Regions from separate parts of the Homo sapiens genome. Here all the other regions are linked to region 3. The links come from fine-mapping of genetic effects on gene expression. A gene starts in region 3. Each other region holds a variant in brackets. All regions are shown on one strand. Distances are between the middles of the regions. Region 1 overlaps TASOR (transcription activation suppressor). Region 2 has its middle 37 kb from the start of CCDC66. Region 3 holds the start of CCDC66 (coiled-coil domain containing 66). Region 4 overlaps TASOR (transcription activation suppressor). Region 5 has its middle 16 kb from the start of TASOR. Region 6 overlaps ARHGEF3 (Rho guanine nucleotide exchange factor 3). Region 7 overlaps TASOR (transcription activation suppressor).

Region 1 (4,000 bases), 79 kb after region 3:
TCCAAAAAGATAAGATATGAAAACACAAACCCTTAAATTGGGGGAAAAAAGGGTTAACACACATTTAGAACTAATTATATATTAGAAGGTAAAATAAAATCCTAAAATTCTGGTATGAATTCTATTCCCTATGTGCCCTACTTATGGGATGGTCCTTAGAGTTGTAGCTAGTGTTAACAACTCTGCTATTTTGAAGCGCTCAAGCAAGCACCAATTTGGCATCAATACAAATTAAGTCATTTGCTTGTTTCTGCCTCCCTACCATTCTGTAGATCTAAGTTTAATACACATTTTAAATCAAGACAGTCAATTACATCAGCTTGCTCAATCCCTGTATTTATTATTTGCCAAGTAATATCTACTATGGTAATGGCCCCTTAGTAAGAATTCTGAGTGTAAGGCAATTGTAAGAATACCAAACAGAAATGCTGTGGGAATAACTGCCAAGTTAAAAGTTGCATCTAGGATCTAGGATAATTAATTTTATCTGCTTTCAGACTTGTTCTCACTTACGAGGTTGCTAAGTAGATTTCCTGTAATGTCAGGGACTTCATTTTATCAGGAAATAAAAGGAACAATAATAAGACAAGAGAAGAACATATTTCACAGCTGCACATTTTTGACAGTCCTTTCATAAATATTTTCCTTTTGTTTGGAAATAATTCTAAAAGAAAAGATAGCTATACCTCATTTGAGATACAGATGTTAGCTGATACTAAGGTTAGCTGATACTAATGAGATTAAAACCTTTCACTCTTGACAAACAGCTCAATCCAAAAGATCATACTTTCCCCAAAAAAATCCTAAATTCAAACACAGTATGTTTTTGAAACTACATTTGAAAAAGGGAACTCTAATTCCATTTTTAAGCAACAAGGGGAAAAATATATTTAACTTCAATTTTAGTGTTATATTTTAGGAAAGGACAAAAACTCATGATCTTTGCTTAGAAGACGTATACACAATTTTACCCGCTAAAAAATTACTGTTTTTCTTTAAGCCTTGGCCAACATTCCCTAACAAATTGCTGCTGTAGTATAGGAAATGGTGCCTCTAAATCAGAAAGTCCAGGTACAGGTAGTTTTCAAACTTACAGTGAAGATTTTGCTCACACTCATCACACTTTTCTAAAGGTTTAAATAGCCTCACTAGGAGTCGAGCTTATGACATTCTCTACCAATCCTGGTGGTTATCATGAACCAGTACACTCATTAACTATTGCAAAGGCAATTTGTCAGCACAGTGAAAAGACCCAAGGCGGGTCTGTAGGCGGAGGTGAGAGGGGAACAAAATATCCAACGTGCCAGGATAAGAATTAGAACTGTATGAAATTGATAAACCAGAAAATCCAAGTTTCATAAGATAATTAGGAGTACTAAATATCCTGAGTATCTTAAATCTCCAACATTAAAATGTGCTTTAGTACACATAAAGTGTCTGGAAGGATACACGAGAAATTGGTAACCATGGCTAATATATGGGGAAGAATCTAAGTGTTCCGGGCTGGGGCAGTATTACTTTCTTAAGTATTTTTGGACTTCTTGAATTACGTATCATGTCAAATATCTGATATATTCAAAGAAAAAAAATTGAATTGCATCTCATAAAACATATGGGTTGCGAAGAACTACCTTAATTTAAAAAATTCTGAATTATTTATTAGACATGGGGCCTCACTATGTTTCCCAGACTGGCCCTGAATTTCTGGCCTCAATTCCTCCTGCCTCAGTCTTCCAAGTAGATGGGATTACAGGTACATACCACCACACCCAGCTATTTATTACTTTAAATGCAACAGTGGCTCCCAAAATGTATAGCTAAACAACAACCAGTAAGTTTACTCCTCAAGGGTTATAAATAAAGGGAATATTTTTAACCTGAAATATAAATTAAATCCACATGGAGAATTTTCCATAATTAAAAACCTCTAAACCAAATAGATCCCTTTATAAAATATAAATAATCACAACCTAATTTTATTTTGCACAAATTTCCCTGTATGATTTTATTAAGAACTTAACTGCTCAGGCACAGTGGCTCATGCCTGTAATCCCAGCACTTTGGGAGGCCAAGGCAGGCAGATCACCTGAGGTCAGGAGTTCGAGACCAGCCTGGCCAACATGGTGAAACCTCGTCTCTACTAAAAAAAAAAATACAAAAATTAGCCAGGCGTGGTGGCGAGCACCTGTAATCTCAGCTACTCAGGAAGCAGAGGCTGCAGTGAGCCAAGATTGCACCACTGCACTCCAGCCTGCCTGGGCAACAGAGCAAGATTCTGTTGCAAAAAAAAATAGAAAAAAAAAACAAAACTTAATTATTTTGAAAATATCTTCATCTATAAGTGATTGAAAACACACATACATGTCAATCCATAATAAAGCTTTTGTTG[T/G]TGGTGGTGGTGGTGGTGTTGTTGTTGTTGTTGTTGAGACAGAGACTCGCTCTGCCACCAGGCTGGAGTGCAGTGGTGAGATCTCGGCTCACTGCAACCTCCACCTCCCAGGTTCAAACAATTCTCCTGCCTCAGCCTCCCGAGTAGCTGCGACTACAGGCTCAAGCCACCATGCTCAGCTAATTTTTTTATTTTTAGTAGACAGGGTTTTACCATGTTGGCCAGGATGGTCTCGATGTCTTGACCTCCTGATCCGCACACCTTGGCCTCCCAAAGTGCTGGGATTACAAACATGAGACACCGTGCTTTTTTAAAAAAAAACTTATTGCCATTAAATAATTGCAGTATTTTAACTTTTAAGTGAAAGGGGAGTAGTCAGTTCTCTAAAGGCACCATCATTCAGATGTCTACACTTTAGCTTACAAAATATAAAGATGGTATTTCCAAATAAGAGGAATGCAGGTGCTGATGGAACATTCTGAAGCATAAGAAAGATAACTACTAGCCGGGCACAGTGGCTCACACCTGTAATCCCAACACTTTGGGAGGCCAAGGTGGGCAGATCACGAGGTCAAGAGATTGAGACCATCCTGGCCAACATGGTAAAACCCCGAAATCAGAAAAGAATTACTGATAGATGCAAAACATGGACTCCCTGACACGATATTGCATGAAAGTACCAAACACGAGAGACGACATGAGTAGGCTCTATTTATCCTAAGTTCAACAACAGGCAAAACTAATCAGATTAGCACTTACTTGGGAACAAGGAGAGTACTAACTAGGAGAATGTGGAAGAAAATCTTCTGGGATGCTAGAAACGTTCTACATCTTGATTTGGGTGATGGTCATGTACATATGTAAAATTTCAAAAAGCTGTACAATAAAGATCTGTGGCCAGGTTCAGTGGCTCACTTGAGGTCAGGAGTTCGAGACTAGCCTGGCCGACAAGGTGAAACCCTGTCTCTACTAAAACTACAAAAATCAGCCGGGTGCGGTGGCACATGCCTGTAATCCCAGCTACTTGGGAGGCTGAGGCAGGAGAATCGCTTAACCCAGGAGGCAGAGGTTGCAGTGAACCAAGATCATGCCATTGCACTCCAGCCTGGGTGACAGAGAGAGATTCTGTATCAGAGGGGAAAAAAAAAAAGATTTGTGAACTTTCCTCTATGTTATATATCTGTTGTTCATGGTTTCTTTTTTTTTTTAACCACATTTTCCTAGAAGGAGATGGTGAAGATTTTCTTCAAGGAAACTAGTAACTTTAATTAGCGGGGGAGGGGAACTCCCAAAGGAAATAAATAACTACAAAGATGTAGTCATTTCACATTTCTTACAAATAAAAAAACAACACTTTAATTTCTGAAAAGAGTCAGATACAACAAAACTGAAGGAAAATATAAAAAAGATCACCACCAAACTGTAAACAAGAAAACAATGCCTATGACCATCTGCAGAGAAGTTGAATCCACCAAGATCAGACAAAGATTATCTCCTAGGTACCCACTGCCAACTAGCTAATCAATAATATCTGCAACTGTTTCTGAAATCCAAGTTTCTTAATCTTATTTAATCTACCTGCAGAAATTAGTTTTACAATCAGAAGAACTA
Region 2 (4,660 bases), 36 kb before region 3:
AGACAAAAGTGACCAAATACAAGGGGCAAATGCAAGTCTCCTACTGAGTCTCAAGAAGAAAAAAGAAGGTTTCACTATGCAAACAGACCATATGAAATATTATTTGACAGTGTGGCTAATTTCATTCATAAAAACTAAATATGAACTGTGGGTGTCTGAGAATATGTAGAATTCAAGACCAGCCTGGCCAACATGGTAAAACCCCCATCTCTACAAAAAATACAAAAAAATTAGCCAGGTGTGGTGGCACCCACCTGTAGTCCCAGCTACTAGGGAAGCTGAGGTGGCAGGATCACCACCTGAGCCCGGGAGGTTGAGGCTGTGGTGAGCTGAGATGGTGCCATTGCACTCTAGCCTGGGTGAAAGAGGGAGACCCTGGAAAGAAAAGAAGGAAGGAAAGAAGGAAGGAGTGAAGGAAGGAAGGAAGGAAGGAAGGAAGGAAGGAAGGAAGGAAGGAAAAGAGAGAAAGAAGAAAGAAAGAAAGAAAGAAAGAAAGAAAGAAAGAAAGAAAGAAAGAAAGAAAGAAAGAAAGAAAGAAAAAGAAATGTGGGAGGGAGGGAAGGAAGGAAGGAAAAGAGAGAGAAGAAAGAAAGAAAGAAAGAAAGAGAAAAGAAAGAAAGGTGGTAGGGAGGGAAGGAAGGAAGGAAGGAAAAGAGAGAGAGAAGAAAGAAAGAAAGAAAGAAAAGAAAGAAAGGTGGGAGGGAGGGAAGGAAGGAAGGAAGAGAAAGAAAGAAAGAAAAAGAAAGAAAGAAGAAAAGAAAAGAAAGAACTATCAGAGAGCTTGGAGTTGGGAGAAGAATAATAAAACAAAACCCATATTCCTAGGTTGCTAAGACTTGCACCCAGATCTGTCAGCCTACAGAGTCCAATGTCATAACCATGGAACTCTACTGCCTCCCAAGCCTGAAAGTGCTATAAAATGACTCTTGAAATTTTAAAATCTCATATTTCTATGTAGCTTTCTTTTCCCAGATGTGCATGCACACCATTTCTCTTACCAATCAGCAGTGTGTGTGTGAGTGCTTGTGTGTGTGTGTGCACCTGTATGTTTTCTTTTTACTTTCTCCATGATAAATTTTTCCAGGTTGTCTCAATAATTCAATACACAAATGTCCTATTCTACATTTTAGATATTCCTGTATCCAAATGTATTTTTTATAAAGCAGCTTTTACCTCCATAGGCCCAACTGGAAATTTTTTACATTTTAAAACCGTAGGCAAATGATAAACATTTCACTTGCTTCCCAACTTTCTCTCCCATGTGGAAACAGAAGCGGATATGTAGACTGCTTTCCTACATCCAAGTAAATAAAGATAAAATCTCTTTGGAAACGTACCATTTTGATAATGATCTTTTCCTACCCAAATTTCCATATTTGAAATTCTAAAGGGATCTAGAAAAACAGTTCCACCCAATAAACAATGTTTGCATAGTTCTCTTTGCTAGAACTCCTTTGGAGATAACTCTGGAGATAAGTGTAAGTATAAATTGGATTTAAAAAGCAACTGCCATGTAAAGAAATCTGTTTCTAAGAGCAACTGAAATTACAAGAGTCATGTGAAAGAGTGCTGAGAACGCCATCTTTCCCTAAGCCCAGAGTTTGTCTCTTTTCTGAGTTATGTATCTGTTATTTTGATGCAATTTCTTCTGATCTATATGTTGTGCTACTAAGGCAGCTGAAGAGGTGACAAAGTTTATTTGAACTAGGCAGTGGAAGCATCAACAGACAGCTTGGATCAAGTCAGAGGACACATACGAGTAGATTCAAAAGACAGTGGTAATTTAGCTTAACTCTAGATTATCTCTTACATTGAATTGCCAGTGCCAACTATTGCATGGGAGTTATATTGCTTTCTTTAAATATTCATAAAGCCAGCAATAGCTGACACTCATGGATCTTCTAAAGTAGAAAGGTTCCCAAAAGAATGTTTAAAATATAAACTTGTTAAGAAACAAATCTAAAGGAAAATGTCCAAAGATATCCAGCAATTTACACTTCTATGGGAAAATGGCTATCGCTGGAGTTGTTCTCTGCGCCAGGCCCTTTTTATATATACTTGTTATCGTCTGCAGAGCAAGTATTAGTATCCATATTTAGAGAGGAGAAAGCAGTCCCAGGAAGAAAGGCTGAGTTATCCAAAGGCACACAGCTGATGACAATCGTGTTTATCTGGTACCAATCCCTGGGCTATTTTTTACTCTACTAGGCTTATTAACTTTCTTTCCAGAAGACTCCTTCTCCGGAACACTTCTCAGTGACTTCTTGGACTTCACAATTTTGTGTTGATTTACATCTTCATCTTTCTAACAAGGAATCAGATT[C/T]CCTCAATAATTTCATTTCAGGCTATTTGTCATCAAGCTAACAACAAATGACTCCCTCAGGATGGAGTTATGTTGATGTGTCTACTAATCACTCCCCTGGTTTGCAGATCTTGGTTGCATTCAGTCTCTGGTCACAGAAGAGGCACTTTCGATCTCATATGATAGTTTGTGGAGCAGGGATAGAAATTATGAAGGACATGTTCTATCCTCCTGCCTCTGTCAGCCAAGAAGACCTTGATCATCTGTCATGCATGGTAACGTTCTCTACAGACCTCAGGCTTGGCCTCAGAATCCTTCTCAATCTAACACCCCACACAAACCAATCCATTAAAATTGACAAGTGAGATGAAATTCAATTGCTATCACCTATACAGGAAAACCTTCTTTATGCCTACCAGATACAGAAACCTTTCTTAATTAGTAAAGTGTCCCAAAATAATAACTTCCAAGTATACAGAGCTAGAATTCAAATTATCTTATGAAGTCAAAATTTAACCCATAATCAAGAAGAATTTGTAATTAAATCAGAGAGCTGACTAAATAGGCATTAAAGTTTACTTTAAATATAACCAAAGAGGCACCTAGGGCTATATCTCAAAAAAAAAAAAAAAAAAAAAAAAGGCAGAGGTATCTGGAAACCCAAATTCTTTGTCTGCTTTTATTGGGCCTTGGGTCTTTAGTATATCAAATGCAACTCAGAATCACCCAATTAATCAAAGGAGCTGTTAAAAATCATCTGATTATCGGCCGGGCACGGTGGCTCATGCCTGTAATCCCAGCACTTTGGGAGGCCAAGGTGGGCGGATCACAAGGTCAGGAGTTCAAGACCAGCCTGACCAACGTGGTGAAACCCCGTCTCTACTAAAAATACAAAAATTAGCTGGGCACGGTGGCGGACACCTGTAATCCCAGCTCCTCAGGAGGCTGAGGCAGGATAATCGCTTAAACCCAGGAGGTGGAGGTTGCAGTGAGCCAAGATCACGCCATTGCACTCCAGCCTGGGAGACAGAGTGAGACTCCATCTCAAAAAAAAAAAAAAAATCATCTGCTTATCTACAGGGAACTTAAACAAATTTACAAGAAAAAAAAAACAAACATCAAAAAGTGGGTACTTTTTGAACAGACTATAAACAGACACTTCTGTTCATAGTCTATGAACAGACACTTCTCAAAAGAAGACATTTATGCGGCCAACAAACATATGAAAAAAAGCTCATCATCACTGGTTATTAGAGAAATGCAAATCAAAACCACAATGAGATACCATCTCATGCCAGTTAGAATGGGGATCATTAAAAAGTCTGGAAACAACAGATGGCTGGCGAGGATGTGGAGAAATAAGAACGCTTTTACACTGTTGGTGGGAGTGTCAATTAGTTCAACCATTGTGGAAGACAGTGTGGCGATTCCTCAAGGATCTAGAACCAGAAATACCATTTGACCCATGAATCCCATTACTGGATATATACCCAAAGGATTTATAAATCATTCTACTATAAAGACACATGCACACATATGGCAATAGCAAAGACTTGGAACCAACCCAAATGCCCATCAATGAGAGACTGGATAAAGAAAGTGTGGCACATAAACAGCATGGAATAATATGCAGCCATAAAAAAGAATGAGTTCATGTCCTTTGCGGGGACATGGATGAAGCTGGAAACCATCATCCTCAGCAAACTAACACAGGAACAGAAAACCAAACACCGCATGTTCTCACTCATAAGTGGGAACTGAACAATGAGAACACATGGATACAGGGAGGGGAACATCACACACCAGGGGCCTGTCGGGGGTAAGGGGAGGGAGAGCATTAGGGCAAATACCTAATGCATGTGGGGCTTAAAACCTACATGACATGTTGATAGATGCAGCAAACCACCATAGGCACATGTATACCTATGTGACAAACCTGCATATTCAGCACATATATCCCAGAATTAAAGTAAAAATTTTTTTTAATTGTCTGATTATAAATCCAGGGAGATCAAATTTTCTCTTCTCTTGTTCAAAGCCCTTTTTATTTTTATTCATTCATGTAACAAAAGCTTACTGAGTGCCAGCCCTCTGCCAGCCACAGTGCTTGATGCTGAGGTTGCCGGCAATGACCGTGGCAGAGGGTATCTCTGCCCTCACTGAGTGCTCAGCTTAGCTGTCTTCATTCATGCATGCATCCCCGGGCAGTAGCCTCCTGCTGGAAGCTCAGCCGTGGCCTAAGGGGAGAGGCCCCTAAACCTCCAGTCTCTTGCTGTAGCTGCTGCTCCAGACAGCTCCGAACGGTTCCTCATACCTCTTTTTTTAACCACGTGGTGCATTTAACAGCCAACCTGATAA
Region 3 (4,660 bases):
GAACTGACACCTTGACAATATTGAGTCTTCCAATCTATAAACACAGAATATCTCTCCATTTATTTAGTTCTTTGATTTCTTTCATCAGAGTTTTGTAATTTTCCTCATATAGATTTTATACATATATTGTTAGATCTATACCTAAGCATTTGATTTGATGGGATGCTAATGTGAATAGTATTGTTTGTTTGTTTGTTTGTTTTTGTGACGGAGTCTCTCTCTGTTGCCCAGGCTGGAGTGCAGTGGTGCGATCTCGGCTCACTGCAAGCTCCACCTCCTGGGTTCAGGCCATTCTCCCGCCTCAGCCTCCTGAGTAGCTGGGACTACAGGCGTCTGCAACCACACGCAGCTAATTTTTTGTATTTTTAGTAGAGACGGGGTTTCACCGTGTTAGCCAGGACAGTCTCGATCTCCTGACCTCGTGATCCGCCCGCCTCAGCCTCCCAAAGTGCTGGGATTATAGGCGTGAGCCACCGCGCCTGGGCAGTATCGTGTTTTTATTTTCAGCTTCTATTTGTTCATTGCTGACATACAGGAAAGCAATTGGCTTTTGTGTATTAACCTTGCATTCTGCAATGCCACTATACTCACTTATTAATTCCAGGAGGATTTTTTGTGGCTTCTTTCAGATTTTCTACATAGACAATCATGTCATCTGCAAACAAAGTTTTCTTTCTTTCTTCCCAGTCTGTATACTTATTTCTTTTTCTTGTCTTAGCTAGGACTAAGGCTAAGTCTTAGGATTAGCTCAGACTTCCAGTGTGATGTTGAAAAGCAGTGATAAGAAGAGACATTCTTGCCTTGCTCTTGTTCCCAATCTCAGTGGAAAAGTTGCACTTTTTCACTGTTAAGTGTGATATTGGGCTCTACAGGATTTTTTTAAAAAATAGAGATAGAGTCTCACCATGTTGCCCAGGCTGGTCTCGAACTCCTACACTCAAGCAATCCTCCTGCCTTGGCCTTCCAAAGTGCTGCAATTACAGGCATAAGCCACCACACCCGGTCTCTAGGAGATTTTTTGTAGATATTGCTTATCAAGTTAAGGACGTTCTCCTATATTGAGAGATTTTAAGAAGCAGAGTGAATTAAGCAGATTCACATTTTAGAAATCATTCTGGCTACAGGCTCACGCCTATAATCCCAGCACTTTGGGAGTCTGAGGTGGGAGGACTACTTGAGGCCAGGAGTTTGAGACCAGCCTGGGCAACGTAAACAGACTCTGTCTCTACAAAAATTTTTTTAAAAATTAACCAGGCGTAGTGGTGCATGCCTGTAGCCCTAGCTACTTGGGAGGCTGAGACAGGAGGATCATTTAAGACCAGGAGTTCGAGGTTACAGTGTTATGTTCGTACCAATGTAGGCGGCCTGGGTGACAGAGCAAAACCCTGTCTCTAAAAAAAAAAAAAAAAGAAAGAAAAGAAAAAGAAAAAGCAAGTGTTGGGGTGAAGAAATTAGAACCTCATATACATTGCTGGCAGAAATGTAAGATGCTGCAACTGTTATGAAAACAGTTTGGCAGTTTCTCGAAAAGTTAACCATAGAATTACCATGTGACCCAGTAATTCCACTCTTAGGTGTATACCAAGAAAATTGAAAATAGGGATTCAAACAGATACTTGTACATCAGTGTTCACTACAGCATTATTCACAATAACTAAAAGATGGAAACAACCCAAATGTCTATTAATGGATGAATGAGTAAACGAATTGTGGTATATATATACATAGAATGGAATACTATTCAATCATAAACAGATATGAAGCTCTGATACATCCTACAACATGGATGCACCTTGAATACATTATGTTACTTGAGAGAAGACACAAAAGGACAAATATTGTATGATTCCACTTTTATGACATGAAGTATCTATAATAGGCAAATTCCTAGAGACAGAAATAAGATTAGAGGTTTCTTAGGATTGAGGGGAGAGGAAAATGGGAAGTTGTTGCTTAATGGGTACAGAATTTTTATTTGGGGGTACTAAAAAGCTTTTGGAAAAATATACTGGCGTATTCCACAACATTGTATCATGGAATTGTCACTTGAAAATGGCTAAAAATAGCAAATTTTAACACACATATTACAACAATAAAAAATAAAAAAGTAAAGGTTTGTCAGGCATTTAATAATTAATACCTTTCATTGTTTTTGTCTGGAAAGAGTGTGTGCAAAGATACTTAACAACCAAATGTAATGTGTGATCCTTGATCGGCTCTTGCATTTTTTTTTTTTTTTTTTGAGACGGAGTCTCACTCTGTCGCCCAAGCTGCTGGAATGCAGTGGCGCGATTGGCTCTTGCTTTCTAAATAAAATGCCTATAAGATATTCTTAGGACAAGTGGGGGAAATTAAATCGGGAAGAGAATTATTATGAAATTAATGATCTTAGGTATAATAATTGTACTGCGGTTATGTAGCAGAACATCTATTCTTAGGAGATACATGCTGCAATGTTAAAGGGTTAAGTGTTACAATGTCTGCAATGTTAAAGGGTTAAGTGTTACAATGTCTGTAACTTACTTGCAAATGGTGACCCCAAAAAGGTGTGTGTGTGTGTGTGTGTGTGTGTGTGTGTGTGTGTGTGTGTGTGTGTGTGTGTGTGTGTCTGTGTACGCGCTTTGGAAGGCTACAATTGCGAGAAGCGCAGGTCTCCGCCACCGAAGCTTTAGACTCATAAGCCGGGTCAGGCCAAATTCCGCTGTGCGTAGGGGAACAAACGGCACAAACGGGGCACAAAAGGGGAACAAACGGCATACGCAACCGTCCCCGCGGGAGCCCCGGCCCAGCTCAGCGCACCCGCCAGCATGCCCCACCCTGATTGGTCCACTTGCTCAGCTCGCCGGCACCCCTATATCCAATTGGCGTAGCGCTTGCTGAGCGGCGGCGGCAACCGACGTACACAAGGGGCTTGAGCGTTCTGTGGAGAGAGTGCGAGGTCAGGCCATGAACTTGGGGTAAGCAGGGGTAAGCTGGGGTAAGCTGGGGTAAGCAAGGTGGTCGTCAGCGGAGAGGGAGGCATGTGTGTCTGGGTTGTCCCTTGGAGTCTTTACTGGAGAACGTTCCCAACCTGCGCCGCCGAGAGGGGCAGAGCCCAGTTCTCGGGTAGAAGATCGAGGCAGATGGGTCGGCCCTTAGCGACTCCACAGACCTTACGTTTTCACTTAATGACTAGCATTAAAACTGCCAGTGATCCCCTTTCGGTCCCTTATTTACCTCAGGATGAGGAGGGAAGAGAGGTGAGGAGGAAAGGAGAGAAATGACGAGACAGTTAGAGGAAGCGTGGCGGCTCCTGGGGAGGACTCCTGGCCCATGCCCCGGGTTCTTCGCCACCTTGTTTTTGGAGTCTTGCAGAATGTTGAAACGCCCAAATTCGTTTTAGGCCCACGAGGCGGGGAACCAGGCTTCTCAAGAAATCGATGTAGTACCAGTGCCTAACACCTAGTAGGCGCTCCTTAAGTAGGGGTGAATAAATAAAAAGGGCTGGTGCATGGTCTTCATCACTCGCAAGTTTGATATTTTGAGAAGATGAGAAGCCACCAAACTCAGACCTAACTACACATCGTTCAGCAAATGTTATTATGTTTTAGAATCTGGGGATATGGAAATAAATAAGATAGTGTGTCCCTTAAGGAGATTACAGTGCAGTGCGTCATTGAAGGTACTTTACCATTGAAGCTCTTTTCTTTCTTGGTGACGTTTCACCAACATAAACACGAACTGTTCATAACCCTACAATAAGGAAAGCCGTAAAACCTATTCTTTCCAGTGTTTTACCTTTAATAGTTAAGGTGAGGTAATTTGATTTCCCCTACCTGAGCAACACCGCAAATTTCGCATTCCTAATCAGACCTTTCCCAGCCTCTCTCTCCCTTGACTGGCTTGCTGGATTTAATTTTCTCTCTCTGAATTATGGACTGTATGTATGGGCTGCCATTTTTGTTCTCAGTGGAGTTTTAGGACCTTAACAGACGTTCAAGTTTTGTTGGCAGTGGCTACTGTTACTTTATGCCTTTGCTTCTGATATGCACGTATAAAGCACCATACTAAATATCACTATGTATTATTTGAAATATTGAAAGTGGTACTCTTTGCTCAAGCAGTTACTAACCTTGATGGCATTGTTAGTAGTCATATCGATGCTCCAGCACTCCATAGAATGTTTTAGTCATGAGTTCATTATGAAACTAATGAATGGCGGTTAAATATATCTTGTTCCTTTAACTTATGTGAGGAGTTTTGGTAACAGCATTATTAAAAAATGGTGGTATGATAACTTAATTTATAGTTTACCAATAACAAAATGAGATTTCAGGTTAATGATAACAATGCTTGTAGTATTGAAGAGTTTCAAGAATTTTCCCCCTGTAGTTGTGGGTTTTATCTTGGATTGCAAACGTTTTTAATTAAAACACTGGTTCGATGTGTACAAGATTCCTGCATAAATTCAAAATAATGGATTTATTGTCAGGTTCAAATGAACATTTCTGGTTATTTAAAATGTTGCGGTTTGTTAAAAATGAGAGACAACTTTCTTTTTTTATTACAGAGATGGTTTAAAGCTTGAAACTGAATTACTGGATGGAAAAACCAAGCTAATATTGTCTCCATATGGTATGTTGTGTTACAGAAATCTGAAATGTTAACTTTTAAATTCATA
Region 4 (4,000 bases), 120 kb after region 3:
TTTACACGATTTTGTTTCTAAACAAAATGACTTCAGATATATAAAATGTACACAAAAAAAGGTATCACATGGCTGCCAATTTCTATGAAATGTTAGTCTACATAAAAGAAATTTTCATTAGTTAAGCTACCCAATACAATTTCTACCATTAATCTAATCGTAAGTAAAAAATTAGTCAAATCATGAATCTGCATAAAAGTTCACATCCAAATTATTCTCAAAGTACTTAACATTTCCAGTTGACTCTAAAGCAATGTCCAAGTCATGTCCAATGTACTAAAAATGACAGCTGACAGGAAAAAAATTATTGCAAATGAAAAGGAAAAAGCATTTTAGCTTTAACAATAAATATCTGTATCCTAATTATTTTGTATTGCAAATGCCTCAGTGGCTTCGTTAGGCCGGTTATAATTTCTCATTTTTTCTGGTGATAATTTCTAAGATAATAAAATTATCCTGCAACTATTTTTAAGGATTTCAAGTCAACTTGCTGCTAACAGCAGTTCAGAAAATTTATTAAGTTCATGTTCTGAATGTACATTTTCTGGTAGTCTATTTTATGTCCTCAGAGGTCATTTAACACTACATGTATCTCGATCAATGTATCCTGTCACTCCTTTTAAAGAAAATATTTAAGTCAAAAATCTCAATTATGGGTCACTATTTGAGGTAGTAATAATAAACAACCCTGTGTCTATCCAAATAGGGAAAGCATTATGTATATGAATTATCCATTTCACTCAGGGAACTCAGTATTCAATACACTGTTCTCTAGATTGACAGTTACTGTCTAACCATTAGTGGTTAAGTACCACCTTCAATACTGTACTAAGAGCTTTACATATATCATCTCAATCATCAAAACTACACTATGAAGTTCAACATGCCCGTTTCTCAATTGAAACTGAGACAAGTAGCCTTTTGAGTTGGCCCAAGGTTACAGGGTTAATGAATGAATCAAGCTGCTGGGATTCAAATTCAAGTGGTTAAGCTCCCTTTCTTGTATCCTGAAATATATGATGTGTGTGTGCATATGGGTATTAGACATACAATGTCCAATCATGTCAAGAGCTGGAAAAATGACTGTTTCCTCACTTTATAGACTAGAAATCATATACAACACTTAGACACAGGAAGTTAATATAAAAGAACAAAGAATTTCGTTCTAATACTGCTCTTTCTACCTTCCTATCTTCTCTCAAATTTCTTAATTTTTTCTGATTTTAATTTTCCTCTAGAGACAACAGGGCCAAGAGTCGTAACACCCTTTGTTTTATAAAGGTTAACAGCAGTAGCAATAGAAGTTCTTTCACACATTAAGAAATGTGTAATTTTGCTTATTTGATCGATTTCCATTAAATGCCTGTCAGAAGAACAGCTAAGTTGATTACTGATCACACAAGGTTTCCCTACTTACAAATTATAGATGTATTTTACGAGACTGAAGAGCAGATTTACAAGGGCACTTAGAGATTTATAATTCAAACGAGGAAACTGATAGTATCATAGAATTTCAACTGGAATTCAAATTTCCTGACTCTTAGCCATACTATCATCAAATATTTTTTATTACTAGTATCATACAAAACACACTTATGATTTTTTTTTTTTTTTTTTTTTTGAGATGGAGTTCTGCACTGTTGCCCGGGCTGGAGTGCAGTGGCGCGATCTTGGCTCACTGCAACTTCCACCTCCTGGGTTCAAGCTATTCTCCTGCCTCAGCCTCCCGAGCAGCTGGGATTTCAGGCACCCACCACCAGGCCCAGCTAATTTTTTGTATTTTTAATAGAGTCAGGGTTTCACCACGTTGGCCAGGCTGGTCTCAAACTCCTGACCTCGTGATTCGCCCACCTCGGCCTCTCAAAGTGCTGGGATTACAGACATGATCCACCATGCCCAGCCCACACTCAAGATTTGAAGGTTGTATTTATAAAGGCAGTGGGCATTGATATATAATTTAGGTCATCAAACAGCTTTGTTCCTTAATCAAAAGAACATCTTCATCAATTAGTTTTACCAATTTGTTTGGTGTTAAGGCAGATCTTTTTGTATTATGTATACATGTATCACAAAAAATATTATCATATATACATAAATTTAAAAAAGCTAAACTTAAAAGACATATCATTCCTATCAAAACATACAAATGGGGCTGGGCGTGGCGGCTCATGCCTGTAATCCCAGCACTTTGGGAGGCCAAGGAGGGCGGATCACTTCAGGTCAGGAGTTCCAGACCAGCCTGGCCAACATGGCAAAATCCCACCTCTAAGGAGAATACAAAAATTAGCTGGGCGTGGTGGCACATGCCTGTAATCCGAACTACTGGGGGAGGCTAAGGAAGGAGAATCCTTTGAACCTAGGATGCAGAGGCTGCAGTCAGCCGGGATCGCAACACTGCATCCCAGCCTGGGCAACAGAGGCTCTGACTC[C/CA]AAAAAAAAAAAAAAAAAAGACATACAAATGGGTCATACGAAGTACAAATAAACAATTGTCTGATTTAAAGTAACTAATACATAGAAGATGACGAAATAATTAGCAAGAAGAGGCTGAGGATCTGAAATTTTCTGAATTCACAGCTGACGCCTATTAATGATTATAATACAACCACTCTCCATCCATTTGTTCTTCACAGTAAGATCTTTTTTTAAAATCACTTTTCTTCATTCTAAAAAAAATTACCACAGACAATACTTTAGGAGTGGGTACTTCATCTCTACATCAACAAGGTTGAACATAGTGTACAATTAGAAATGAATATGCTGGCAGGAATCAAGAGTACAAATACGAAACAAAGTTTTTTGGACTGAGGATAGCTCAAAGTAAATTTTACCTTGATTACTTTGCTATTATGTATGGAGAGAGCTATTGTTCTCAGAACCCACTCATCCATATACAACTAATGAAATACCATGGAAATTTCCTTAAGAATGAGACTTGGCTCCAATGACTTCAAAAAGGCAAGTGAAAATTTTGTGGGGGAAGATGGAGGTTAGGAGAATTAGCCATTACTTCTGGACTAAACCAGTATGGAAATTTAGTGCATGAGCGCAATTAATTTTTGAGACTCCCTTGGACCCTACAAAAACATTAACCAATAAACGTTTTCCAGAAAGTGAATCATCGCTACTCCATTTCCCAAGAACTTTGGAGGGAAAAATTACATCAAATGCAATTACCAATTTTAATTTACTTTTTATGACTCACTAGATTTAAAGAAGGCAATAGTGAAACATCTACCAACAAAATGCAATTCTACAATTTGGTTAAATTCTATAATTTGGTTAAATGTAAGAATCATGCCTCAGCCAATAAATAACATACATCAAAAACAGTAAAATGTATACCTTTCCAGTCAAAGACGCACTTAGTATGTCAGTACCAACCAAATGTTGATAGTAAACATAATTTCTGAATGTCAAAATTCCCCAAGGATGAAAACATACTAAATATTTCTATATTTAATGAAGGGGGGGAACAGTTTTTGTTACTAACAGGTCAGGTCAAAAGCAGCTAACTTAAACCCTTAGATTATTCAAACTGGGTAGCAAGATTTTTCTTTTTTATAGTAGTAAAAGTACTCTACAACTACCTTCAAATTCCATCTCCACAACTTAGCTGTGTGACCTGAAGCAAGTTACCTAACTTCTCAGTACTTTAGTCTCCTCATCTGTAAAATGGGAATAGTACCTACCACAAAACATTGTTGAGATTTAGTCAATGTATGTAAATTGCTTAGAACAATGCCCACAACTTATTAGGCACTATACAAGTGTTTGCCAATATTATTACTCAATTACAATGGCAGTTATTTTGGATGTCACACTACTGGGAAGACCAAAAAAAGAACTTTCTGAGTCAAGTTGTATTTGCATAGCAGTGACCTTTAAGGTATTAAAATATTTAAGTCCTAATCTTAAATTTCACTGGAAAAGCACAGTCACAAGAAAAGGTCTACCATATTAAAATATGAATGCAACAGAACCTGCACTGTTTTTGAATTTTT
Region 5 (4,660 bases), 140 kb after region 3:
TTTTAAAAAAGGAGGTTGATATAGTGTTCCACTAATAGCTTGGGGGAAATTCTTTCTCAGGTATATAATACAGGAAGTTATTTGACAGGCAACTATGCTTAAATTTATGTTAATTGTGTAGAAAGAACTGAGTAAATCATTTCCTGTTTTCTCTCCACCTGCCCCCACCAAAAAAAGAAAAGAAAAAATTCTAAATTTGACCAATACAATAATAGCAAGATAACGCAAAGATTACAATGGGATATGGCCTGGGTCAATTAAAGCACCAGCAATTGGCATTGGACCCTCCACCTTATGCATGTCTATATCCAGCCATGATGTGAATATGTGAGTAGCAAAAGTGCTAGCTGTGTCTTTTCCTGATTTTTTTTTTTTTTTTTTTTTTTTTGAGATGGAGTTTCACTCTTGTTGCCCAGGCTGGAGTGCAATGGCGCCATCTCAGCTCACTGCAACCTCCACTTCCCAGGTTCAAGTGATTCTCCTGCCTCAGCCCCCAGAGTAGCTAGGATTACAGGCATGCGCTACCACGCCTGGCTAATTTTGTATTTTTAGTAGAGACAGGGTTTCTCCATGTTGGTCAGGCTGGTCTCGAACTCCCAACCTCAGGTGATCCACCCGCCTCGGCCTCCCAAAGTGCTGGGATTCCAGGCGTGAGTTACCGTGCCTGGCTCTTTTCCTGGTTTTTATATTTTAATGATTCGTATTAGAGTTAATTCACATTAACCCTCTTCAAAAAGAACATTAAACCTAAAGCCCAGTGACTTAACAACATTAAATATTCCAGATTCTTTTCCCCAAAAAGTTCCATTTCAACTCTTGGAAACAAAAAGTTAGATAATGGTTTGGCTTTAAATGCCTCATTTCAAATGTCCTTCCCCATAATACTCCCAAGTGAAAAAAATATTTTTTCCCAATTATTTTTTCATTTAATGTAAAACATTCCAGTTAAAAGAGATTCTCAAAAATAGAGCTTTACAAAAAATACGAGTTCAAGTTTCAGTACCCTACCCTTCCCCCACCCCCGGCCCAGTGGCTCTGAAAAGATAGGCAATTAATAATAAGTTTTTTCCTAAGAAATCTTTGGGGAACCAGCCAAGTTTAAATAGGGTAATTGGTAGGTCTATGGTTGCAATTTACATAAATTATAGAAACATAACACCAGACATTTATCTAATTGAAGAAAATGTGGTGTTCAGTTACTTATCTAGAGGAATTCTACTTGCAGTTTGTGCCATTTGGTGATTAGTCCATTCTCTTGAGAATCTGAGTTGCTCTAGAGACAGAATATATGATAATAATGGTCCAAAAAATCAGTTTTGCTTACTTAGCAACAACAAAAAATATATATTAAAAATAAAATACTATTCATATACATTTCCTTGATAAAAATAGTATTGAAATAGTATAAATCCATAATTCCTTTAGAAGATGCTTATCCACATTCCTGTTAGAGATGTGGAGTAGTTAACACTCACCAGATGATGCTCTCCTTCCTTCCTTCCTTCCTTCCTTTCTTTCTCTTTCTTTTTTTTTTTTTTTTTTGAGATGGAGTTTTACTCTTGTCGCCCAGGCTGGAGTGCAATGGCATGATCTCGGCTCACTGCAACCTCTGCCTCTTGGGTTCAAGTGATTCTCCTGCCTCAGCCTCCCGAGTCTGGGACTACAGGTGTGCGCCACCACACCCTGCTGATTTTTGTAGTTTTAGTAGAGACGGGGTTTCACTATGTTGGCCAGGCTGGTCTCGAACTCCTGACATCAGGTGATCCACCTGCCTCAGCCTCCCAAAGTGCTGGGATTACAGGTGTGAGCCACCGCACCCGCCAATGCTCTCCTTTCTTTCAGTGCTAAAGAACTCTTCACTCTCTTAATCAATCTGTTATTACAAGTCCTATGGCCCTTTGTTGAATTTCTGTTTACTAGAAATATAATAAGCAACGTAAGATATTTAATTTTGTCAAAGTCGTTCCAAATCTCTTATACTAAATAAGTATAAAGATACTATATATGTATATATATATGTGTATATATGTGTGTGTGTGTATGTGTGTGTGTGTGTGTGTGTGTGTGT[GTGTGTA/G]TATATATATATATATATATTTTTTTTTTTTTTTTTTTCCACCCAGGCTGGAGTGCAGTGGTGAGATCACAGCTCACTGCAGCCTTGACATCTCTGGCTCAGGTGATCCTCCCACCTCAGCCTCCCAAGTAGCTGGGACCACAGGCATGCACCACCACCCGGGCTAATTTGTATTTTTTGTAGAGATGGGATTGTGCAATATTGCCCAGGTTGGTCTGGAACTCCTGGGTTCAAGTGATCTGCCTACCTTGGCCTCCCAAAGTGCTGGGATTCCAGGTGTGAGCCACCATGCCCAGCCTGATAATAAGCAAAATTCCACTTCCCTAGTGCTACAGACTAAATTTTTATGTCCCACCCAAATTCATATGTTGAAACTCTTAGGATTTCACCATCCTTGATAATTGTCAGATAAAGAAGTAGGACCTTTGGGAGGTAACTAGGTCATGAGGGTGGAGCCCTCATGCATGGGATTAGCGTCTTTATAAAACAGACTTCAGAGAGCCCCTTTACCCCTTTAGCCATGTGAGGACGCAGTGGAAAGATGGCTGTCCACGAATGAGGGAGTGGTTCCTCACCAGACACTGGATCTGCCAGTGCCTTGATGTCAAACTTCCCACCCTCTAGAACTGTGAGAAATAAGTGTTTGTTGTTTATAAGCCACCAGCAATATGGTACTCTGTTACAGCAGCCCAAACTGACTAAGACATCTATTTCTTACCTGAAGGAGTTTGAAGTGGGGTCAAATGCAAGTTTTACATTCTTTTAAATGTAAAAGCCTGGGCGCAGAGGCTCATGCCTGTAATCCCAGCATTTTGGGAGGCTGAGGCAGGCGGCCATCACGAGGTCAGGAGTTCGAGACCAGCCTGACCAACATGGTGAAATCCCTGTCTCTACTAAAAATACAAAAATTAGCCGGAAGTGGTGGTGTGTGCCTGTAATCCCAGCTACCTAGGAGGCTGAGGCAGAAGAATTGGTTGAACCTGGGAGGCGGAGGTTGCAGTGAACCGAGATCACGCCACTGCACTCCAGCCTGGGCAACAGAGTGAGACTCCGTCTCAATTAAAAAAAAAAAAAAGACAAAATAGCATACAATTCTGTCTCAAAGCCTCAAGTACCTTTAACTACAGTCTGTCTACAATAACCTAAGACATTCAAAAGACAGGAGAATGCTCATACCCTCATGCTGGGACACTGATAATCTGGAGCTTACTACATTGACATCACTGGCACCCACTTACTAAACACATGCAATTACTTAGCAATTAGTTCTTGAACAATTTGTGTTTGCTAAGAACTATATCTGACCCAGGGAATAAAACATAAGACACAGTTCCTGCTTGTAAATACACTAGCAAAAGAGAAGAAGACTATCTTGTAGAGACTAGCTGAGTCAGTGAATGTCAGAGATGAAGAGGAAGGGCAATGGCATGAGTGGAATTCCAGGTAGAGAAACGGTGAGAGAAAAAAAGAACAAAGATACCAATGTGAGAAACAAAAAGGTTTCTGCAGCAGGGAAGCACAGTTGGCTGTTGTGGTATACAGGATGAGGCGGCAAGTGGAGAGGCGGGCTGGTCTGAAGGCTCTAGCTGAATCACAGAACATATGCCACATTAAGGGATTTGGATTTAATCCTGATGCAAAATATAAGAAGTTAAGGATTTTAGGTAGAAGCTGACCCAATCAGTCGTGCATTTTAGACAGATCATTCTGGGTTTCTTTGTTGTTTTTAACTTTTCATTTCTTTCTCTCTTTCCTTTTTTCTTTCTCTTCCTGTCCTTTCTTTCTCCTTCCTTCCTTCTCCTTCCTTCCTTCATTCCTTCTCCTTCCTTCCTTCCTTCCTTCTTTCTTCCTTTCTTTCTTAGGGTCTCACTCGGTCACCCAGGCTGGAGTGCAGTGGCACAATCACAGATCACTGCAGCCGAAACTTCCAGGGCCCAAGCTATCCTCCTACCTCAGCTCCCCGAGTAGCTGGGACCACAGGTGTGTGCCACCACACCCAGCTAATTTTCTTATTTTTTGCAGAGACGGGAGTCTACCTGTGTTATCAGGCTGGTTTCGAACCCCTGGGCTCAAGCAGTCCTCCCACCTTGGCAACCCAAAGTGCTTGATTACAGGTGTGAGCATTCTGGTTCTCGTTATAGAAGGTGGATTTTAGGTGGATTGGAGTCAACAAAACTACTTAGGACATTGTTGCAAAAATCTAGGTAAGGATGGCTTAGAACTTCTCCATCCTTGGTCATTGTCAGCCTAGATACAAACTGAGGTTGCACTACAGTGTGAGAGAATTTCAAAGAAGCAGGAAAGAAGTAGAGATGGGTTTTACTAAAGTACTAGTAATCACAGTTACTAAAGGATGCTGTTGTTTTTCCCCCACTCCCCACCACATTCTTTTTTTAACATGTCAGTAATTTATAACTTTCTGAAAGGACCAAATAATAAACCATAAAATGATGATGCCAGGTGTTTTGTTACGTGTTTTTGTTGTTGTTGTTGTTGTTGTTTTGAGATGGAGTCTCACTCTGTTGCCAGGCTGAAGTGCAGTGGCTCGATCTTGGCTCACTGAACCTCCGCTTGCCAGGTTCAAGC
Region 6 (4,660 bases), 210 kb after region 3:
GGCTGTAATGGTGACAAATATGAACATTTGTGCACCTAACTGCATAGCTTGGAAATGTGTGAGGCTGAGACTGACAGAGATGCAAGAGAAACTGATCATCCACAGTCACTGTGGGAGGCTTTAACCTAAAAGTGAGCAGATCACCCAGACAGAGATAAGGCTGAATAGACTGTGAGGAACCCAAAACTAGGCTCAGAGTACGTGAGCTCTGCACCTATGCCTAGAATAGTGCTAGAGGGAAACTGGTAAACTATTAATGGATTGTTTTGGAGTTGGAAGACTATACATGTTCTTTTTCTCTTTCTCCTTTTCTGCATTTTTCCATAATGAACATTCACTTTTATAATGGAAAAGGAAAAAGTGCAAGTCCAAAGAGAATGAGGGGCTACATCACAACATCATGAACACAACATTCCATAGCATGTGCTGAACTCAGCTCAAATGAGTCCAGTAGCCGTGAACAGCTGTGGACAGGGAGAGGCAGGGCTCAGGGAGCGACTGGCCAAAGGCGAGCTCGCCTTCCTCACTCCACACCAGAGGAGCGCATGAGGTCCCCTTTCAGAGCTGGGCCAGATTTTCCTCTCAGGCAGGCCAGGGAGGGAATTTATAGGCTCAGAGGGATCCAGACATCTGTGCTTGAGTCTACCGGCAGTGCTAACCTTCCTGGTGAGAAGCAGATAGAGAGCCATGCAGTCAGGCTGTCCCTCCCCAGCGTCCACAAATGCTGCCTTTGTGTTGGGGTGCAAGCCCCCAGCCCATATGGGCACAGGAAGCAAGAGAGAACAAATCCTGCAGTGTCTTGCTGAACTGTGGCTGCAAGGACCACTCACATGTGTGACTGGGCTTTTAACATTTTTGGAAGTGGCTGCCAGCCCAGAGCTCTCCTGATATCCTCCTGGGCTAACTTGTGGTCTCCTGAGGAACCAGAGGAAGGTCTGCTAAGTGTTCCAGCACTGATTAGAGCACCTTATTTGGGCTTAAGTCATCTCTTCTATAATTAAAAGAATCCAACCTGAGAGACATAATTGAATATCCAAAGGAATATATATGTCTCTAAGGTGTCAGAAGCCAGGGAAAAGGAATACTGCAACAGAGAACCAAGCTGCTCAATTACAGCCTTGAGTCATTTTTGGAATAGAAAAGGCATAAATAATACACACATATGGGTAATGGATGGCTGCTGAGAGGTTTGGGGCAGCTGATACACTCTTTGTTCTCTGTTTCTCCCTTATTGGAAAGGGAACCAAGACTTAGACAAAATCGGAGAGGATGTGAAGTGAGCCCACTGAGCACCCCTTTGGGGCCAGCTCTTCCCCCTCATCCTTACTGCTCCCAGGCCACATTAAATTAGCATCCAGCCAGGTGCAGTGGCTCATGTCTGTAATCCCAGCACTTTGGGAGGCTGAGCTGGCGGATTACCTAAGGTCAGGAGTCTGAGACCAGCCTGGCCAACATGGCGAAACCGTCTCTACTAAAAACACAAAAATTAGCCAGGTGTGATGGTGGGCACCTGTAATCCCAGCTACTCGGGAGGCTGAGGCAGGAGAATCACTTGAACCCAGGAGGCGCAGGTGGAGGTGAGCCACGATCACGCCACTGCACTCCAGCCTGGGTGACAGAGCAAGACTCTGTCTCGAAAATTAAATTAAATTAAATTAAATTAAATTAAATTAAAATAAAATGAAATAAAATAAAATATAAATTGGCACCTTCTCTCAGTCTAGCTGGTGAGGGAAACTATTATTGAGATGCTAGGGCTGGAAATAATGCCATAGAAGTTGCACCGTGTGCACCAAGGTGAGTTACAAGAAGACATGTGGGGACAAGCTGGCATTCTCCATGCTTTGCAGATCATTCTGCAAACATGGCTGCTAACTCTGCATACAACTTGAGGGGTGTATTTCCATTCACTGTCCCCCCAAGGACACTCTCAAACATAAGCACATCGCTCAATTCTCTCCATATCTATGTACATTACCATTGTGAATAACTCTTCTGTTTCTGCTGGGTTGTTTCTGGCCAATATATAAAGCTTAGAGTAAGCTATTTATCACAATATTTGAAAAAATTAACTTAAAAACTTATTTTGCACTTTGGGAGGCCGAGGCAGGTGGATCACTTTAGGTCAGGAGTTTGAGACCAGTCTGGCCAACATGGAGAAACACCATCTCTACTAAAAATACAAAAAATTAGCCAGGCGTGGTGGTGGGTGACTGTAATCCCAGCTATTTGAGAGGCTGAGGCAGGAGAATCGCTTGAACCCGAGAGGTGGAGGTTGCGGTGAGCTGAGATCGCGCCACTGCACTCCAGCCCAGGCAACAAGGGTGAAACTCCATCTCAAAAAAAAAAAAAAATTATTTTGCCAAAAAAATCTTTGAGGTTTTAAAAACCAATTTCCACATGTCAGATCCTCCTTTGGGTCTGGCTTT[C/T]TCATCCTTGCTTGGCCTCAGTCTGCTGGATTTCAGACATGGCTTGATTTCTTTCTGTTCTAGTTCTCTAGGTCAATGTAAATTTCTGAGGTGAGCAAATGTTTCCTGCACTGTTACCTGTGAAGGAACCCCAGAAACAGAAGAAAGAAATTTTGCCTGAGAAGCCAAAAGAAAGATTTTGAAGGTATGGTAACAGATCTTAAAGCAGCCAGGGCTGGGCTGTAGTGGGAGGCACAGATTGTGCTCTTCCTAGGCCCAGGAGCACAAACACAAAAAGCCTACCAACTAGGCAAGGCAATGACAGAGAGTAAAGGGCCAGGTGTTAGAAGGGCAATTGGGAGAGGTGGGGACATTTGTAGGTGATGGTTGGCTGGCTGCCTAGGTCTAGCTCATTACTGCCATGTGGGAACACAGCACTGCAGCAAACCTACCAAAAGGCAATTCTGTTATATCTGGAACATAGCAATATGAGGGCAAGAAGAGCCTAATGCCTGATGAGGATTCACTCAACACTGACTGAATGAATGAGGGCCTTCCTGGGCAGAGGGTGGACTGTCCTGGGAGCAATAATGGGAAGAGATGGCTGGTAATTTGGAGGTCTGACAATCAAGGAAGGAAATAATTGCAGAGTGAACTTGAGCCACAGCCACTGGGATGGAGAGGAAAGGGTGAAATGCAGTAGACATTCTGAAGAATTTTCAAAAAGCAGTAACTCAGTGAGAGACCAGATGTGCGGGACTAGGGCAGTGATGAATCTTCCAGGGGATGCCTGCGATGAACTTGTCGAGAGGGCTGAAGAACTGGTCACAAGGGAGAAAAGGTAAACACATTCTTCTTCACTAGTTTCAAAGCCCTTCATCTTGCTCTCCCAGATGACCTTATTTTCTCTTTCCTCCATTCTCCCACAAAAGGGATCAGGGTATTAACCAGGGATCCAGCGGCCCAAGTGCTGAGAGAAACAGACCCAAACCTATAGCTAATTACGTGAGGTATTCATTCAGGAGAAACTGCAACAGAGTTAACAGAGGAACGGGCAGGGCAGGGGAAAAGCAATGGAGAGGAAGGGCATCTATGGGAAAGTAGCAAGAACCACTTGGGCTATGTGGAGTCATGACATATTGGCTGTATGGTAGGCAGGCAAGGACAGAAAGGGCTGAGGGAGAACCTCAAACAGTTCTCAAGTCATGGATTTTCACAGCATGAGGCATGCCTTGGGTTCTGGTCCCCAGTTTTCTTAAAGACTCAGAAAGCAGAGATACAAAATATTGCCAAGCAAAAGCATTCAGGACAAATACATGGCAGACTCAAGACTGCTGCTCAGCTAAACCAGGTGAGCCTTTTCATGGCATATTTTTTGTGGGCTTCAATCTAAAAGAAAATTTGTATAATTATCAAATTGGTCCAAGGGCTTGGATAAATCTCAACGTTCACTTTAAAAGATACACTTCATCAACAGTTTAAGAACAACTATAACTACTTGTTAACTAAAAAACTATCATAGTAGCTAATATTTACTACTTAGTTAACGAATTTGAAGATTAATGATTGCTAACTAAGGGCCAAGGTGTTATGCTATGCCCTTTAAATGCACTGTCTTGTAAATCTTTACAATGATTCCATGAACGTTTGGTGGCATCATGGCAAATTTACTGATATGGAATAGAAGCAAGACCTATCTGTAGGATGAAGTATGGAAAAAACATTTTTTTAATAAAAAATAAAAGCAAGACCTAGAGATGTTAAGTCACCTGCCCAAGGTGAGCCGAGGTTAGAACCCAAGGTACTTCCACTCCGAGGTCCTTAGGTCCTCATTCTAAGCCAAGGGTCAGCAAACATTTTATGTAAAGGGCCAGATGGTAAATATTTTTGGCTTTGTGGGCAATATGGTCTCTGTCACAACTACTCAATTATGCCATAGTACAAAGCAGCCATGGACAATAAACAGATGGGCATGGCTATGTTCCAACAAAACTTTATTTATGGATACTGAAATTTGAATTTCATGTCGTTTTCATGTGTCACGAAACAGCACCATTCTTTTGACTTTCCCCCAAGAATTTTAAAAAGTAAAAATCAGGCTTAGCTTGTGAGCCATAAAAAAACAGGTGGTGAACTGGATTTTCTCCACCCAATGCAGTTTGCCGACCCTGGTTGAAGCTACTAGGCTCTGTTGCCCTCCAGCTAACATCATGTGCTGGTTTCCTCAGGAGGCCCATAGATATTTTAGGAAA
Region 7 (4,000 bases), 96 kb after region 3:
GTAAAGTGGTATTGTGTTTGGGGGTTTCAGGTAGCTTAGTTGACCACTTTCTCCAGGGTCAACTTCTCCTTCAGTTCAATCTGTGCCAAAAATGAGTCTTAGATACCTGGTACTCAAGGAGGTTATTTTAGTGGAAGCAGGCTGGTGGTATGGGACAGATAAAGTCATGGGGTCAGATGACCAAATGACTAGGTCCATCTGAAGACCATTCTAAACTTTGGGGAATCTTTCCCCATTTTTACTGCCTGGATTCCATGAGGGTCAGTTATCAGGTCTTTCTTTTATAAAGGAAGTTCAAATATTCTTGTAAGGGTAAACTTTGTTGTAAGGTTTCTAATAGTTAATCTGTGCTGAGGTGGCCTTGTTTCCTAAAAATCCCAGGGCCAAGGTTAAAAATCCTCAGGCCAAGTTACATCATACTGCTGACATATAGTATTGGCCCTGCAAGATATTTAACTGGGTCTTACGGCTACCATTTATAGCCACGCTAAGTCTCTTAGAGTATACTACAAGCGGACAATGTACCTGAAAATTTTGTTTCAAATACTTTTATCCAAAGTATTTTAGATAATATACTTCTTTTAATATTTTGTTCAAACTCCTAGTTGATGAAATAAAAAGTTACGAAGCACAAGATTTTCATGTTTTGTGCTCACTGACGAAAACCAATTAGATGCCTTTAACCTCTCACTCACTCCAAATACTAGGTTTTATAAATTCCACTACCAGTAACCTAAAGATTCCTGTATTTTAAGGGGGCCCAATGTTTCCAGAAATCCATGGAGTACAAGCAATCTATGATCAGAAACAACACTAAGGCTGACAGAGGCTTCAGCAGTTATATCTGTGGCTTCAGCCCAATGAAATCCATTCAACTCTGCAGAAAAGAAAAATCCTGCAAATTGTGCTCCTGTTGTCTCTATTTTAGCTGTTTGGTTATTCTTAAAAAAAAAAAAAGATATTAATCCAATCTCTGGGGTTTTTAAATTAGTTTATTCTACTATTTTAAATTTCCAGATAACATTAAAGGTATTATAGCACTCCCCCACCCCCACAAAAAAAGAGTTAGTATAAATACATGTACAATGGGCCAGGCGCAGTGGCTCATGCCTGTAATCTCAGCACTTTGGGAAGTCGAAGTGGGAGGAGGATTGCTTGAAGCCAGGAGTTGAAGACCAACCTTGGCAACACAGCAAGACCCCAACTCTACAAAAAAAATTTTAAAAGTTGTCATGTGTGGCGTCATATGCCTATAGTCCTGGCTACTTGGAAAGCTAAGGTGGGAGAATTGCCTGATCCTGAGAGTTCAAGCTGTGAAGCTGTGATTGTGCCACGCACTATAGCACCTCAGCCTAGGCAACAGAGAGTCCTGTCTCAAAAAAAAAAAGCTTAGAAGGAAATAAGCTACACTAAAGTGAGATTCAGCAGAAAAAAAAAGATTCAAACACTCAAAGGCATCAAAAATTGGAATTATCAGATGCAAAAAGGAAAATAATCCACTATGAAATCTTTAAAGACATAAAATAATTGGAAGAATTAAAAACATTTTCAAGCAAAAATGTTTACGCTAATGTTCATAGCACCATTATTCATAGTAGCCAAGAAATAGAAATAACTGATAAAAGAACAAACAAAATGTGGTATTATCTACACAATGAAAGCATACTGGGCCATAAAACAGAATGAAGTTCTGATATATGCTACAACATCAATGAGCCTTGAAAATTATGCTTAGTGAAAGAAGCCAGGCACCGAACGCCACATATTCTTGACTCTATTTATATAAAATGTTCAGAGCAGATAAATCCATAGAGACAGAAGTAGATTAATGGCTGTTAGGGATTAGGAAGGGGGAATGTACAGTGAATTCTGAGATGAAAATGTTCGGGAATTAGATAGTGTTGATGTTGCACAACAGTGTGAATCTACTTTTAAAAAAAACATAGAATTATATACTTTAAAATGGCTAAAATGGC[T/C]GGGCACGGTGGTGCACACCTGTAATCCCAGCACTCTGGGAGGCCAAGTTCAAGAACAGCCCAGGCAATATGGCAAAACCCTGTCTCTACAAAACATACAAAAATCAGGCAGGTGTGGTGGTACGCACCTGTAGCCCCAGCTACCCAGGAGGATGAGGTAAGAGGATCACTGGACCCCAGAAAGTCGAGGGTGCAGTGAGCCAGGATCACACCACTGCACTCCAGCCTGGATGACAAAGCAAGACCCTGCCTATTTAAAAAAAAAAAAAAAATGGCTAAAATGGTTAATTTTATGTTATGTGAATTTTATTTCACTTAAAAAATATAGGCAAAGAATACCGGAATATAATGTGCACCTCCTAGAACTCTGCCTGGCGTATGATAGGTACTCACTAAATACTTCTGAAAGACTTAACAAGAACCTGCTATAAAATAACCAGGCAGATCCAAAAAAATTCAAATGTAACTTTTAAAAATAAAAAACATTCCCTGTGAAATTAAAAACACAATAAATAAATAAAGCAACAAATAAGACACAGCTAAATACAGGATTTTTAAACTAGAAGATAGTTATGATGAAGTTACTTAGAATGCAGCACAGAGAAACAAATAGATGGAAAACATAGACAAGGTTAACAGACGTGGAAAATATGCCTCTTCAGAGTCCTAAAAAGACAGGCCAGGCCGGGCGCAGTGGCTCACGCCTGTAATCCCAGCACTTTGGGAGGCCGAGGCCAGTGGATCACCTGAGGTCAGGAGTTCACAACCACTGGCCAACATGGCGAAACCCTGTCTCTACTAAATACACGAAAATTAGCCAGGTGTGGTGGCACACACCTACAACCCCAGCTACTCGGGAGGCTGAAACAGGAGAACTGCTTGAACCCGGGAGGTGGAGGTTGCAGTCAGCCAAGATCATGCCACTGCACACCAGCCTGGGCAACAGAGTGAGACTCCATCTCAAAAAAAAAAAAAAAAAAAAAAAAAAAGAAAAGACAAGCTAAAGAAAATGAGGGAGAAGTACAATAAAAGAGATAACTAATTTTCCAGAAAAAAAGACACAAATCCACAGATATGAAAGGAAAAGATATACCAAGCTGGATAAATAGAAATCTACACCTAGATACTGTAACTGCTAAACATCAAAGACCAAAAAAAAAAAAGATTTAAAAAGTAGCCAGGGGGCGGCAGGGGACCTACAAAGGAACAATTAGACTGAGAGCTAACCCCTAAACAAAAATAGAAGCCATAAGACACTGCAGCATAGTCAAAGTGCAAGAAAATAGCTGTCAACCCAGAATTGTGTACCCAGCACCCAATGATTATAGATTATACATTTTTCTCAAACACAGAAGGAGCATGTACAAAAATTGACCACACAGTAGATCTTAGTCTCAACAAATTTCAAATAATCACCACCATTGTTGATTACAATGCAATTAAATTAGAAATAAAAAAGACAAAAGTATCCCTGTTTCCCTATACACATACCTCTACATCATATATCAAAGTTAAAAAAAAATTGGAAACTAAAAAATAAAAATTTCTTAGAAATGAATAATGAAAATACTGCACATTAAAACGTGAAATGCAACTAAAGCACTACTTACAACTGAGTATTTATTGACTATTTTTCTGACTTAAAGACAGAAATAGCAAAACAAGTCTCAAAAAAGTAAAAGTTGGCCAGGCTTGGTGACTCACCCTGGTAATCCCAGCACTACGGGAGGCCGAGGCAGGCAGATCACTTGAGCCCAGGAGTTTGAGACCAATCTGGGCAACATGATGAAACCCTGTCTCTACTAAAAATACAAAAATTAGCCAGGTGTCATGGAGCATGCCTGTAATCCCAGCTACTTGGGAGGCTGAGGCAGGAGAATCCCTTGAACCCGGGAGGCAGAGGTTGCAGTGAGCTGAGATTGTGCCACTGCACTCTGGCCTGGGAGACAAGAGCGAAACTCTGTCTCAAAAAAAAAAGGCAGAGATGGTATAAGAAAGGAAAATTTCAGGTCAATCTCATTCAT

Evidence for each region. PIP is the estimated chance that this variant, and not a neighbour inherited with it, causes the effect.
Region 1: its variant is fine-mapped to the expression of CCDC66 in whole blood (INTERVAL, PIP above 0.99).
Region 2: its variant is fine-mapped to the expression of CCDC66 in whole blood (TOPMed, PIP above 0.99).
Region 4: its variant is fine-mapped to the expression of CCDC66 in whole blood (INTERVAL, PIP above 0.99).
Region 5: its variant is fine-mapped to the expression of CCDC66 in whole blood (INTERVAL, PIP above 0.99).
Region 6: its variant is fine-mapped to the expression of CCDC66 in whole blood (TOPMed, PIP above 0.99).
Region 7: its variant is fine-mapped to the expression of CCDC66 in skeletal muscle (GTEx, PIP above 0.99).

What each region holds. Positions count from the first base shown.
Region 1 is chr3:56,634,000-56,637,999 of GRCh38, forward strand. All of the region lies in intron 17 of TASOR (transcription activation suppressor), which reads right to left. Among named protein-coding and RNA genes, the nearest start is that of TASOR, 47 kb to the right of the region's middle. The variant T/G (reference allele first, on the strand shown) is at 2,390.
Region 2 is chr3:56,518,058-56,522,717 of GRCh38, forward strand. No RefSeq gene overlaps it. Among named protein-coding and RNA genes, the nearest start is that of CCDC66, 37 kb to the right of the region's middle. The variant C/T (reference allele first, on the strand shown) is at 2,324.
Region 3 is chr3:56,554,297-56,558,956 of GRCh38, forward strand. It overlaps CCDC66 (coiled-coil domain containing 66), which reads left to right and starts at 2,879. Exons shown (of 18, transcript NM_001141947.3): 1 at 2,879-2,957; 2 at 4,550-4,614. The coding sequence starts at 2,947. RefSeq lists enhancers at 2,322-2,994, 2,995-3,666, 3,135-3,294.
Region 4 is chr3:56,676,579-56,680,578 of GRCh38, forward strand. The region is part of intron 1 of TASOR (transcription activation suppressor); the gene reads right to left. Among named protein-coding and RNA genes, the nearest start is that of TASOR, 4.7 kb to the right of the region's middle. The variant C/CA (reference allele first, on the strand shown) is at 2,430.
Region 5 is chr3:56,696,782-56,701,441 of GRCh38, forward strand. No RefSeq gene overlaps it. Among named protein-coding and RNA genes, the nearest start is that of TASOR, 16 kb to the left of the region's middle. The variant GTGTGTA/G (reference allele first, on the strand shown) is at 2,069.
Region 6 is chr3:56,768,775-56,773,434 of GRCh38, forward strand. All of the region lies in intron 2 of ARHGEF3 (Rho guanine nucleotide exchange factor 3), which reads right to left. Among named protein-coding and RNA genes, the nearest start is that of ARHGEF3, 31 kb to the right of the region's middle. The variant C/T (reference allele first, on the strand shown) is at 2,430.
Region 7 is chr3:56,650,325-56,654,324 of GRCh38, forward strand. The region is part of intron 11 of TASOR (transcription activation suppressor); the gene reads right to left. Among named protein-coding and RNA genes, the nearest start is that of TASOR, 31 kb to the right of the region's middle. The variant T/C (reference allele first, on the strand shown) is at 1,977.